Homo sapiens: one gene and its partner. The protein of the gene in region 1 purifies or fractionates together with the protein of each later gene. This does not show direct contact. Each region holds a gene or a part of one and is shown on either strand. Other genes may lie near its edges.

Region 1 (3,500 bases):
AGAGCAACAGGTGCTACCATCAGTGATTCTCTGAATTCAAAGCCAAGTCAAGAGAAAAATGCAACGCCCACTTCCGAGGAGCCACGTATCTATCTGAACGGAAAAAAAGGCAGCTGTTTGACTCCAGTTTGCTTTTGTTTTCTAGACCCCAAGTGGAAGAAAGGAGCAGAAAAGTTTTCCAAGCCTTCTGTACTAACATGCAGTACTAGTGGACACAGCTCAGAAGTCCCGGTAGGCTTCTGATCACACTCTCACACCTCAACCAAAAAAAAAAAGTCACAGTAGATAGCAGGATGTGCTACTCCAGGATGTAAGTTTTTCACTTCTTTTAAAATCCATTAGATGGGGAATAGCTACATAACATATTAAATGAGACAAAGCTGGACTCCGTAACTCACTTGTGTATCTATCATGTGCTTATTGCACTAGAATCTTTACTGTTTCGTCACATAATATTAAATTTGCTTCAAAAACTAGCTGTGTGTGAGAGCTGATGATTCAAAAACAACAAATAGAACAAGGATATGGTTATGAATATGTACTTTCTTTTGAGTGTTACCTAATTTCTGAGAACAGGATAATCTTATGCAATTAATTTTATGCAAATTAACAGCTATATTAACTTAAGCCTCAATGAAGAAGCTAGGTTAGAAGTATTGCTAGGCAAAGAAAGTTCTTTCTATTCTTCCAATGCTATACTAAAAAGATTCGCAAGTCAAATCCAGCCATCTTGCCCTCTAATTTCACAGAGGCCTGCAGTTAAAAAGATAGTGTAGATATATTCATTTTTACTGATCCAAATAAATAAATTGTTTTCGTAGGTTGTTTTCGTTTGTTTGTTTTTTGAGCCAAGCTCTCACTCTGTTGCCCAGGCTAGAGTACAGTGGTACAATCATAACTCACCGCAGCCTCCAACTCCTGGGGTCAAGCAACCCCCCTGCCTCAGCTTCTCCAGTAGCTAGGAATAACAGGTGTGCCCCACCATGCCTGGCTGATTTTTAAAAAAATTTTTTGTGGAGATGGGGTCTCACTATGTTGCCCAGGCTGGTCTCAAACTCCTGGTCTGAAGCAATCCTCCCACAGTGGTCTCCCAAAGTATTAGGATTACAGGTGTTAGCTACTATGCCCAGCCTAAAACATTAACAAAATCCATATCAATTTCCCACATAGCTAACAGTGATCAAAAGGCATCTTTAAATTCTAATAGCTCTAAACCTTTTGACATGCTGAAAACATTTTGTTCTTCTAACTCTAGTAACAGAGCTTCTGATAACTACCACCATTATAATGCATCCTCAAACTTCATATAAGTAGCATCAAGTACAACGTACCAATTTCCCCATAAGAAGAGTAGTTTTAAATTGTGGGTGCAGCAGGACCTCCCCTTAAGCAAAGAGACTCTTCCTGGTAGTTCAGCCCTATCCGTAACATCTTTAACCCAAGTCCTTTTTCCAGAAATGATACAATTCTGCATCTTTTCTAAAATTTCAAATCTTAGCTACCTGTCACAGATCACCTCTTCCTACTCCAACCTGGATGTAACAGAAAGATCAGTGACAAGCTGAAATAAAGTAAACACCAGATTACTTTAGATTTTGTTTCAAAATTTTCTTAACCTAAGAATTGGGAACCACCTAATTACCCACCTAATAGGAACCAGTTAAATCCTATGGTAAATGAACATAATGGAATCCTTGCTTTAAAATACTAATAGACACCTACACTAATTCACAGGGTAAAATTATTGGCATGAACCCATTTGTGTAATACAGTTTATCTGTATTTCTATATACATGAAACCAGGTACACCAAAATATTAACAGTAATCGTTTCTGAGATTTGGGAATTATACCTTCTTTCAACTTTTCTGACTGTATAAACTATTTCTACAAAGTCATTTTCACATAGTTTCTCATAGGACAAGAAAGAGATATATATATCTACCATTTCTTACCTTCTACCAATAAAGATATTGAGAAACACTCACCATTCTGGATTTTATTGTTGCTTCTTGAACAACAGCTTTCATTATCTACTTTTACTGAAGATTCCTTTAAATTCTGTGATCGGCAAGCTAAAGCTGAAGGTTCTACCTTTTTTCCTGAACAGTTATTAGGGCTATCACTATTGACACCTGCTTTCACTTCTGGTGCATTTGAAACATCCGATGGGGAAGGTGCATGTTCTAGGTGCTTCTGCAGTTCAGGAGGATTGGCAATTTCCAATTCTGCCTTAGAAGAAGCCTTTGTAGGTAAGCACTCCTTAGGAAGGCCAGTCAATGCTTGTGGAACAGACTCCAATCTGTTTTCCTGATCAGTGTTTGTCTTAGGCTGAGTACAGCTGCCTTTTGGCTCAGTCAGAATTTTCAAGTCTCCAGTTCCAATCTGAGAGGACTTTGAGAGCAACCCTGCTTTGCAGACATCTGGTTTTGTTCTCAGAGCTTCAGACTTTGTATTTAGACAGGAAGAAATTTCCTCTGGTAAACTTTGTTTATGACATCTGAAAAATATAATATAGAAAGCTAGCATCCAGGCCTCTTTTTATCTCTCCATTATCTTCCCCAAACAAACTGTTTGGTTCCCTAAGGTAACGAGTATGAAAGAAAAAAGAAAATTTCTCATATGTTACAGAATTTAGGATAGATTTCTGTGAGCTAGAGTTAAAAGTCATCAGTCAATGGTTCTGCAAAAATCATAAACACTCAGAAAAATACAACCCTAAATTATGTCTGCACGTTCTCAGAAATCTTTAACTTCTTACGTTAGTTCTACTTCTCACAGCACAATGAACCTTAGCTTTCCCTCAAAACAAAATATTGTATGAAACCAAAGAATATACTCAGCAGATAAGCTGGTTTATAAGTATCAAAACCAGAAGTCTGTGTAGGGGCAATTCCGAAAGTTTTCTTTCTTCTTTTTTTTTTTTTTTTTTTGTGTGTAAATTTCAGAGAAACCTCTGCTAAAACTCTTTCTTCTATAGTAAAGATTATGTTTGAATTTTAAAGATAAAACTCCATTCTTGCTACTTGCCAAGAGTCAAAAATTGAACCTCTAGTAAAGGTCAATGTGTCAAGATAAAAATTCTAAAATATATACGTATATAAAAAATGTTAGAAATCCCTTCAAAGATATTCACACAAAATCTAATTAAAAACGAACAATGGGCAAGGCACAAGGGCTCACACCTGTAATCCCAGGATTCTGGGAGGCCAAGATGAGAGGACTGCTAGAGGCCAGGAGTTCATGACCAGACTGGGCAAAATAGCAAGTCCCCCATCTCTACAAAAAAATTAAAAATTAGCCTGGTGTGGTGGCACGCGCCTGTAGTCCCAGCTACTTGGGAGGCTAAGGCAAGAGGATCAATTGAGCCCAGGAGTTCAAAGCTGCAGTAAACTTAAACTTTGACTGTACCACTGCAACTGCACTCCCTCCTGGGCAACAGAGCAAGATCCTGTCTCTAAAAAACCTCAAAAACTAAAAAAAAACTAACAAACTGGCAGC
Region 2 (2,743 bases), on another chromosome or scaffold:
CAAAATCTTGATTCAAGTGATGATCCAATAGCTTACAAATGTCTTCAATAAACTGAGCTTTGAGGCAGAACAAAAAAAAAACAAAAATCTAAAACCTCTCTATCCCAAGCACCAATAATGGAGGCTAAGCAATTATACCTACAAATCCTTAACGACAGGTCTCTCCTAATGAAAAATCCTGAGATTTAAGCACTGTGACTTACAGAAGGCAGGTTGGCTTAATGAGGAAATTTACTTTTAATAAAAAGACAATCAGCAATATTTTATTTTGGGCACTTAGCATTTCACAGATCCTCAATACATTTTGAGGTAGGTCAAATATTAATTATGTATTTTACAAACAAAACTCAAGCAGTTGTTTTATTACTTGTCCCAAACCACAGGAGCAGTTCTATCGTGGTCAGGAATAACATGGTCTCTGATCTTTCAGATTAATCTTTCATGTGTGAATTTAATGGTAATTACTTGCAAATATTCATGAAAAAAACCAAGACTAGATATAGAAATTCTACTCTGGGTTATTTTAAACTTCTTAAATTGATTCTATAATGAGTATATACTTGCTCTCATTACAAATATATATATATAACTGATCTTTACATTACAAATGACCACAGCAGTGACTGTGTTGCTTTTCTGCCTTTTGGGGTGAGTAGATCAGGAAGATAATCAGCAAGCTTTCCTCAGAGCACTAGGCAGCCTTTAACTTAAGGTGCTATGTTTGAGGCACCATTGACTATGATTTGGGGTCATAGGAGAGCAGGTATACTGATGGAACCAGGATTCAGAAAAGATGCCTGGATCCAAAAACGGGAGGCTCTCTGCAAGTCAAAGATGAAGAGAAAAATAGTAGCATCTCAAGCTACTGATCCTGAGTATCATGCTACAGCATTACAACTACTTGTGAGAGGAGCTCCTACAAGAGCAGTAAACTTGTCCCAGTAAAGTCTGCTAAGTTCTAACTAGATAAGCCACAAGTAAAACTAAATTGGTATTTTACTAAAGTGACATCTACAGAAGCAAACATCTAAACATTTTTAATAGGAGTTTTACCTGTCATGTAAATTACTCTAATTGTCACAAGCCTAATTCAATTAGCTTGTCATAATTCCTAAAATAATTTACCAAAATTCAGCTCATCTTGACATAGGTTCTTGAGCCAGTATTCCGAACCGTTTCATTATAAAGTTCCTTTTATTTAAACAATTGTAGAATATTAGTAATAATAAAGGATCAAGAATAGTTAACTTGAGCCTAGGAGTAAGGTTGCAGTGAGCTGTGATTGCACTACTGCACTAGAGCTCAGGTGACAGAGCAAGGCCCTATCCTAAAAAAAAAAGAGAAAGAAGTTAACAACTGAGAAATTAGAAGGAAAACGCCATTATTGTGTTATATAAAAGAGTAAGGATATAGACACCTATGCTTCCATATACAACAAACAGCTCAATACCATTTGAGTCAAAGAACAAAGGGGAAAAAAAAGCAGGTGGCAGAGGGCATGGAATGCAGAGTATTGAAGCCTTTTATTCTAGGGTCTCCAAAACTGAGTGTGGAAGTAAAAAGTTTCTACATTTAAAAAGTTTATATAAATTACATGAATTGCAACTTTCATAAAAATCAAAATGAAAGGTTCTGCATAGGACAAAAGATATGCCTAAGCAACATATCGTATTTGCACAAGGCCACTGAATGTCATGGATATTAGTAACAAATGAAAAGCTTAAGTCTATGGCAGATTGAACTAAGATTTCAGTTTGGTATTCTATAAGCCCGAGATTGTAAACTACTCTTATTATACAAAAGCTATAATGATTTACAGAGTTTTGTGTAGGAACTCTTGTGCTTCTGGTTGGCACATTATCTACTTTTTAAGTATGTGAAATTAATACAGACATTTGTGAGAGGTTGTGCAAAACTACTGTATTTACAAAAATGGCACAAAAGTGAATTCAACAGTTAATGCACATGCATACTTCATTCACATCTTCAACAACAAAAGGTATTCTAACTCTACAGAACTGAATATTAGCTTCAACGGCAGCTGTTAAGCACTAGAGTCACATAAGTTACACCAGAATGGGCAAATATTGCCCAAGTAAAATTCTACTGTTAAAGCTGAAACAGGTTTAAGGCCATTCAAGTTCAAGCACAGAGATACAAATCTTTCAGAGCCCCATCTAGTTGTGTTTGAAATATGTGACCTTTCTTCTAACTTGTGGTCTTAAACTTCTGTTTTACAAAATCCAAAAGGTAAATACAGAAGAAATCAATACAATAGAGATTATATTAAATAAGAGTAACATACAAAGCTATAATTAAGATGAAGTAATGAAAGCCAAAACATTAAAATTTTAAAACTTGCTTGTTACTTGTTAGAACCAGTACTACACTAGAAGTTAGGTAATATATACAACTATTTTCAAGTAGTTTACTTATGTTGCTCTAACATGTCCTCTTCACCAGTGCACTGTTAAACTAATCAAAAACTCTACACACGTATATTCCACAATAGCAGCACACACTACTGCTACCTGCAAAGCTGTCAGTCTCAAATGACTAGTGAATGAAAGGAAATAAAAAGTAGATAAGTAACATATTAAGGAGAAATAATGAGATTTAGCAGATTCATGCAGTTCAGCCTCTTAATCAGCCAGCCAGCTTGCTAGCAACAAGGGACGGCTTCCGTTGAGGAAGGTCTTGCGGAGTGGGAATGTGGTCACCAGTGACCTCCGTCTTATCCGGA

What was found.
Region 2: the proteins of KDM3A (region 1) and ARPP19 fractionate together in Homo sapiens (co-fractionation; one large-scale study listed by BioGRID). This does not show direct contact.

The regions. Positions count from the first base shown.
Region 1 is NC_000002.12:86,465,371-86,468,870, reverse strand, and holds part of KDM3A (lysine-specific demethylase 3A), read right to left. Parts: intron 2,500-3,500; coding exon 1,988-2,499; intron 1-1,987. UniProt on the Homo sapiens protein: Histone demethylase that specifically demethylates 'Lys-9' of histone H3, thereby playing a central role in histone code.
Region 2 is NC_000015.10:52,549,288-52,552,030, forward strand, and holds part of ARPP19 (cAMP-regulated phosphoprotein 19), read right to left. Parts: coding exon 2,647-2,743; 3' UTR 1-2,646. UniProt on the Homo sapiens protein: Protein phosphatase inhibitor that specifically inhibits protein phosphatase 2A (PP2A) during mitosis. Inhibition of PP2A is enhanced when ARPP19 is phosphorylated.